2 linked regions of the Homo sapiens genome follow. The protein of the gene in region 2 purifies or fractionates together with the protein of the main gene of each other region. This does not show direct contact. Each region holds a gene or a part of one and is shown on either strand. Other genes may lie near its edges. The genes, in order: CPNE2 and CDC42BPG.

Region 1 (3,806 bases), on a different chromosome or scaffold from region 2:
TCAAGGCAGCTGGTCCAAGACCTCGCAGGCTGCTGGAAATCATTCTGCTAACTTGTACAATGCCTACTCTGTGCCAGGCTCTTGTGGTCATCGTCAGTGACTCACTATCCCCAGCTCACAGACAAGGACACTGAAGCACAGAGAGGTTAAGTGACTTCCCCAGGGCTGGACAGCTTGTGGAGCAGGGCCGAGATTTGAAACCGAGGTCTGACTCTGCTACCCACACTCTTAATTCTTTGGCCCTGGCTCCCTACCCAGGTGCCAGGGTAAGAGCTCAGGCCCTGCCCCTGCCTGGGTAAGAGATGGAGGACAAGGCCCTTTCCCCATCTGGGCCTCCGTTTCCACCTCTGTAAAGGGAAAGGATTTGACTACTTGCGGTTTTCACTTTTTATTTTGGGAAAACCCTTTTTCAAACCATGTTTTACATGGAAACTGAGAGAGGAAACAGAAAGCAGGGAGGATTCTTCGGGGGAGGTGGGGTCAGGGACTCCCCACGGGAGCGCGGGGAGATATTTGTATCTTGTATAGAATCCTGACACTGTGCAGCCCAACACCCCACCTACTGTGGATACCAAAGCCTGGCTGAGGACAGGGCCTGGTACTGTGGGTCAGTGGTGGCACTGGGACAGGAAACCCGCCTCCTGGCCTCTGGATGCTGAGGCCCCAAACCGCGGAGTCTGGGTGACAGTCTATTTTGGGGCCCAGGCTGTGTTGACTTTTCCTCCCACCCAGTCCATTTCCAAGGGCTGGAGCAGCAGGGACGGAGGAGGTCTTGGCCCTGGGCTATTTTTAGCCAGGGTGGCTGGCCTGGGTGGGGGCAGAGGTTGTCAGGGAGGGTGGGGGATTGTGCTATGAGTCAGGGGGATACCACTCCCTCGGGGCACTCAAGGGTTCTAGAGACCTGGTGGAAGGGAACTGTGCCCCCAGACATGCCTCTCACAGGCTTGTGGCTCCCCCAGGAGTCCTCAGCTGGCCCCATGTCCCACCTCCCACTTACAGTTGTACCATCAACAAGCTGGGTGACACAAAAAAGTCCCTACCCACTCTGGGGCCCCTGTTTCCCCCTCTGTAAAGTGGGTCAACAATCCCACACCGTTTTCTTGGCATCACAAGAAGGAGCCAACATCCATGGGAACTCTTTGTAAACCACAGTATGTTCAGGTGAACTCCCACCGTGGCCTAGTTAAATATCCATTAAAAAATACACACATATTTTGGGAAATATACATGCATATAAAGCCATCTGGAAGGCTGGATACCAAACGGTTAACAGTGGTTCTCTATGACAGGTGGGTTCCTAACAATTTTGATTTTCTCCTTTAGGTTTATCTGGATTCTCTACATTTACTCCAATAGTTTCCTTTTGCAAAAGCAAAGCAAGTTTTAAAACCTGAAGGTCTGAACAGCTTAGGTTTCTCAACATCCTTCCTCAAGCTGCAACTCTTTCCAACCTTCAAGCCAAAGTCTTCCAGCTCAGAAGTCCTTGCCTGGGGCACCATTAATATCCCCAGATCTGGGGCCTTCCAAGGGAGTCAGCAGAAAAAAAATATATAATAATTTCACAGATGAGGAGACAGGTTCAGAAAGGGACAGCTACTTGCTTAAGGCCACACAGCAGGGAGTAGCATCACTGGGCCTTGGACCAGCTCCCAAAGCCTGAGCTCACTGTTTCTCTGTTTCTTACTGACCATGTGTTCATTTAGAAAGGTTATTTAAAAGCGGAAGCAAACATTTCATAAAACTATAAAATGTTAACTATATATAACAATTTATAACAAGATGGGGCGTGGTGGTTCATGCCTGTAATCCCAGCACTTTGGGAAGTGGAGGCAGGTGGATTGCTTGAGGTCAGGAGTTCAGGACCAGCCTCGCCAACATGGCGAAAACCCATGTCTCTACTAAAAATACAAAAATTAGCTGGGCGTGGGGTGCACACCTGTAGCCCCAGCTAATCGGGAGGCTGAGGCAGGAGAATTGCTTGAGCCTGGGAGGCAGAGGTTGCAGTGAGCTGAGATCTCACCACTGCACTCCAGCCTGGGGGACAGAGAGATTCCGTCTCAAAAAAAAAAAAAAGATATCAAATAATCACTATAAATCATATAAATATAAATCTATAGATTTTAATTGTAATAATTTAAACACAAAGTAATATTTTAAATATATTTAAAATAAAATTTCATTTTAAGAGTAACAATTTACCAAGTAATCCCCTGCCACCAGCCCACACTCCAACTACTTCCATCAGACATCCTGGATCCCAGTCCTGGGAGACTCCCCCTCCCCAGCAGCCTAGCCACCCCCTTACCCACCGCAGACACACGGAAGAGCCTCACCTCGATCCATCTGCCATTGTTCTCTGTAAAGAGGACACAGAAGGGGTCGGACTTGGAGGTAACATCCCGGTCCAGTAGGTTCTGGCCACTCACTGACAGCTCCACCTTGCACACGCAATACTGGGGGCCCATGGGGGCTGCCCCCGCTGCTGGGGCACCCCCACTGGGTATGTGGGCCATGGGAGCCGGTGGCGGTGGCAGGAGTTCCTGGCAGTCTAGGGGAACAGAAGTGAGGGTCAGAGAGTGGACAGACACCTGCTATGCTGCCCCACCATAGGGAGGCATTACCACCTGGCCTTTAAGAGGTGAGTGGAGAGATGGAAGGCAAATTGAGGCGGGTTGTCAAATAACATAGGCAAAGGTTTGAAGAAAGAAGAATGCAAGGAAATGCATGAAAAGGGAGTCTCAGCTGAGCGCAGTGGCTCACGCCTATAATCTCAGCACTTGGGGAGGTCAAGTGCCTGGAAGCCCGGAGTTCAAGACCAGCCTGGCAACAAGGAGGATCCTGTCTCTGCAAAAAATATTTAAAAATCAGCTAGACATGGTGGTGCGTGCCTGTGGTCCCAGCTACTTGGGAGGCTGAGGCAGGAGGATTGCTTGAGGCCAGTAGTTCAAGGTTGCAGTGAGCCGTGATTGCACGTCTCTGCACTCCAGCCTAGGCGACAGAATGATACCATCTCAAAAAAAAAAAAAAAAAAGAAAAGAAAAGAAAAAAGAGTCTCTGTCTCTGGTAGCTGTGTTAAATTTGTCTTTGAAGTTTTTCTCTGCTGTGGTCAGTCTTCACCTGTAAGGATGCACAGCTCCTTGTGTGTTGCTCCGTCACATGAGCAACAAATCACAGTGGACATGGGTGTCTCAGATACTAATTGTGCCAGGAAAACCTGGGCTTCTCCTGAGCAACTAGCATGTTGGCATCTTGTGGCCACAGTGGAGCTGACAACTGCTCAGGCTTCTCTCCTTCCTACTTTGGCCACTAGGAAGCTCACTTCTGGTAACGTCAGAGGCGTTTAAACCAGAGCAACTCCATCTTGAATAGGAACTGGGTAAAATAAGGCTGAAACCTACTGGGCTGCATTCCTAGATGGTTAGGCATTCTGGGTCACAGGATGAGATAGGAGGTCAGCACAAGATACAGGGCATAAAGACCTTGCTGATAAAACAGGCTGCAGTAAAGAAGCCAGCACCAAAACCAAGACGGCCATGAGAGTGACCTCTGGTCGTCCTCACTGCTACACTTCCACCAGGGCCATGACAGTTTACAAATGCCATGGCAACATCAGGAAGTGACCCTATATGGTCTAAAAAGGGGAGGCATGAATAATCTGCCACTTGTTTAGTATATCATCAAGAAATAACCATAAACATGGGCAACCAGCAGCCCTTGGGGCTACTCTGTCTATGGAGTAGCCATTCTTTTATTCCTTTACTTTCTTTTTTTTTTTTTTTTGAGGCAGAGTCTGGCTCTGTCACCCA
Region 2 (3,806 bases):
AGCCGCTCCTGCAGGCCCTGCTTGGCGCGGATCTCGGCCTCCAGCGCTGACTGCAGCTCCAGCCTGGCCGAGGCCTCCATCTTCTGCAGTCGCCGCGCCTTCCACTGGTGGTCCTGGTGGCCACGGAGCACCCGTATAAGATGCTTTCTAGGCCTGGCTGCCTCAGGGACCCCCTGCTACCAGAGCATCCTGCTACCCATGCCACCCAGCCAGGCTCAAAGCTCCAGCTCAGCCAATGACCCACTGTGAGCTCAGGGAAATCACTATCTCTCATGAGCTTGGTGTCCCCACCTCCAGTAGTGACCTTCAGTAGCAGGGATGCTGAGCTCACGGAAGGTCAGTGACTTGCCCAAGCCAGCCCCCAGGGGCATCTCTGGGGCTCACCAGTGGCCGGGCAGGGAGCGTCTGGGTGCCTACGTTCCTCAAGGACTCCAGCTCCTCTGCCATCTTGGTGGCCAGGGCCTGCAGGTAGCCTCTTGAGACCTTCTCATCATTCACCCTGAATGGGAAGGGGCTCAGGGTCATGGGCTGGGCCCTCAGTCTCGCCTGCGTTCCCCACCCCGACCCACCCCTGGCACCCACCAGCTGAGGATGTCGGCGAGCTGGGCCTCCCAGTTGCTCTCCGTCTCCCGCCGCTCACCCTCCAGCCGCTGCTTGCTCTCCTGCTCCTGGGCCAGCTCTGCTTCTAGCTGGGGCCGGCCAGAGGAAAGGTCAGCCCCAGGCCCCAGCAGTCCTGGGACTGCCGTCTCCCTGTAGGTACCCCAGCACCCCGAGCCCCGTCCATGTCCACCCTGCTCACTGGCTGCAGCTTGCCCACCCCTCAACTGGCTCCCCATTGCCTTGTCCGTCTGTTGTACCCTCCGTCTGTTGTACCCTGCTCACCCGCTCCTGCTCCCGGCTCAGCCTCCGGTTTTCCTCCTGCAGCTGGCACAGAGCCTCCTCCTTACCACTCGGCCTGGGGAGGAGAAGGCCAAGGCCGTGACTCACCGCCCAGGCCAGGCCCGGCCCCTCCCTGCCACCAGCTGCCTGGCTCACCTGTGGCTGTGGGCCTGCTCCAGCTGCTCTCGCAGGGCGGCCACCTCCTTCCTCAGTTGGGCCTCCTGAGGCCCACCCTCAGGGGGTCCCATCCCGTTGGTCTCAGAGGCTGTGTGGATGGTCTTGGGGACATGGAGGGGGTCAGGGCAGAGACCCAAGATGCCATGGCCCACCCACCTGGGACACAGGCCTGGCCCTGAGGCTCTGAGTGGGGTCAGGCTGGTGGGGAAGCACCTCTTGCCAAGGGGGAGGACTTGACTACCTTGGCCTGGGACGACTCCTCAAGGCGTTGCTCCCACTGTCCCTGCAGCTGCGTCACCTGCCGGCTCAGGGAGGACACCTGGGCCTCCAGCTGTGAGGGGTGCAGAGGCAGGCCACTGCCAACTCTGCCCTCGGCAGCCCCTCTGCCCACCTTACCATGGACTCCAGACCTGCCAGCCACAGTGGACATGAGGAGGCATGGACTCCCAGACTGCCCCGTCCCAGCCACCATCCCCTGGCCTAGCCTCTGCCAGCTACAACCGGGAGGCAGCATCTCCCACCAAGCTCCCCATGCTCCCTCCAGGCACACTGGGGGCAGGGCCCAGGTGCTGTCCCTACCCACCCTGGTCACTCACCTCCCTCTGGGCAGCCCGGGCTTCCTCCAGCTGGGAGCTCAGGGCCCGGGTCTGGCTAGCTGTGGCCGCCTCTCTCTCCTGGGCCTCCTGTAGCCTCTGAAGCAGCTCCTCCTGCTGCCCCTGGGCCCTGCAGAGCTCCTGCTCCTGAGCCTGCAGCCCTGCCCGACCCTCGGCCAGCTCCTGAGGAGGCAGGGGAGGGAGCGGGGAAGGACAAGGCCCAGAGTCAGGCACGAACCGTCCATGGAGCCCAGGGCCACTCACCCACCTCACCCACCTCACCCAGCCCTCACCCACCTCACCCAGCCCTCACCCGGTGAAGTCGGTCAAGCTCCTGCCGTAGGTCACTGTCCTGACCTGGGCTACCAGCTGGGGGCCCATCCGTCTGGGACAATGAGGCCTTGTCCCTCAGCATCTCTGCCAGGAAGAGTCACTGAGACCTCGAGTGCTGGCGGCCCCAGCCTCTCAGCCCAGGAGCAAGTCTCCTTGGCCTGTTTCCCACACGCGGGCTCAGAGAGTATAAAATGCTCTCCCAGGATCATACAGCTTGTCCAGGGCAGGGCAGGACCCGAGCCCAGGTGGGACTCAGCCCTGGGGGGGGGGGGGGGGTGGGCGGAAGGGATACCTGGCAGCCTGTCCCGCAGAGTCTGCACTTCCTTCCGTAGCTGCTCCAGCTCCCGATGGTCTGTGGGGGCGTGCAGGGCCTCTGGAGGGGAGGTGGTACCCACAGGTGAGTCCACTCCTCCATTCCCGCAGCAGCAGCCCCTAGGGCCAGCACACCCAGGCCCGGCCCAGCCGCTCCCAGTACCTTGGTGCTTCCTGCTCAGCTCCACCTTCTCCTGCTCCAGACACTGGAGCTTCCGCTCCAGGGCAGCCCAAGCCTCAGAGCTGCTCTCAGGACTGTGACTGTAGGGGGACAGGGGCCATGTTTGTTGGTAGAAACCTCACCCCACAGAGTCTCCTCCATCCTCCTGGACCGAATCACTCATTAATTGTGAAACAGCCAAAACAGACCCTGCCCTCGGGAGACCCCAGACTGGTGCCACGGGTGGCAGCCCGGGGTAGCAGCTGCAGGGCACAGGCTCCGGGTCCAGGCCCAGGTTTAAACCCTCATCCTGGCCCTTACAAGCTGTATCACCTCGAACCCAATGTATTTTACCCTCAGTTTCCCCAGGGGAAGATGGTGGTGACAAGGCCTCTCCCCAGGGCTGTCGAGGACAGGATGTGGTGACAGTGGCCCGGCTGGTCTAGAGGAGTGGGGATCTGACCCATTTCCTTCCACCTCAGAGCACACCGCACCAGGACCTCACTGCGGTCTCAGGCCAGCCCCTCGAATGGGAGTAGGTGGAGATAATCCCACCCATTTTGAGACAGAGTCGCTCTGTCACCCAGGCTGGAGTGCAGTGGCGCAATCTCAGCTCACTGCAACCTCCGCCTCCCGCGTTCAAGCGATTCTCGCTGCCTCAGCCTCCCAAGTAGCTGGGATTACAGGCGCCCGCCACCACGCCCGGCTAATTTTTGTATTTTTAGTAGAGATGGGGTTTCACTATGTTGGCCAGGCTGGTCTCGAACTCCTGACCTCAGGCGATCCACCCGCCTCGACCTCCCTAAGTGCTGGGATTACAACCATAAGCCACCACGCCTGGTCCATCCCACCCATTTTACAGAGCCACAAAGTGAGGCCTGGGAGCAGTAGGGGCCTTCGAACCCTGCACCTCTGGCTCTAGGTGCAGCGCACCCTCGACCTTCGTGGAAGGCGCCATGAGAGCCATGTGCTGGCATGTGGCCCAGCAGGACCTGGGTGTGGCTTCACCAGGACCCCGAGGATGAGGGCTAGAGCACCTGCCACATGCAGATACTGGGGAGCCCTTCTGCCCTCCTTCCCAGGGCCCCAGTGGGCTACGCGCCCAGTGTCCTCCAGGTCAGGCAACCCCGAGCCTCCCACCAGGTGTGTGAGGACTAGCCTCACCTGCCTGAGGTGTAGGTGAAGCCCACGAATGGCAGGTGATGGCCGGAGAAGGCCCCGTGGGAGGGCGGTGGCAGGGTCCCCTGCAGAGGGAGAGGGAAGGAGAGTCAGAGTCCACAGGCCAAGGCCCGAGGCCCAAGGCCCAGGAGCCCCCTGGGACCAGGTGCGACCACCTCCTGCACAGGTGGGAA

The links.
Region 1: the proteins of CDC42BPG (region 2) and CPNE2 purify together in Homo sapiens (co-immunoprecipitation; one large-scale study listed by IntAct). This does not show direct contact.

What each region holds. Positions count from the first base shown.
Region 1 is NC_000016.10:57,109,450-57,113,255, reverse strand, and holds part of CPNE2 (copine-2), read right to left. Parts: intron 2,549-3,806; 5' UTR 2,514-2,548; coding exon 2,334-2,513; intron 1-2,333.
Region 2 is NC_000011.10:64,834,465-64,838,270, forward strand, and holds part of CDC42BPG (serine/threonine-protein kinase MRCK gamma), read right to left. Parts: intron 3,699-3,806; coding exon 3,619-3,698; intron 2,556-3,618; coding exon 2,458-2,555; intron 2,356-2,457; coding exon 2,275-2,355; intron 2,067-2,274; coding exon 1,963-2,066; intron 1,833-1,962; coding exon 1,653-1,832; intron 1,388-1,652; coding exon 1,298-1,387; intron 1,158-1,297; coding exon 1,036-1,157; intron 956-1,035; coding exon 883-955; intron 690-882; coding exon 583-689; intron 500-582; coding exon 385-499; intron 114-384; coding exon 1-113. UniProt on the Homo sapiens protein: May act as a downstream effector of CDC42 in cytoskeletal reorganization. Contributes to the actomyosin contractility required for cell invasion, through the regulation of MYPT1 and thus MLC2 phosphorylation.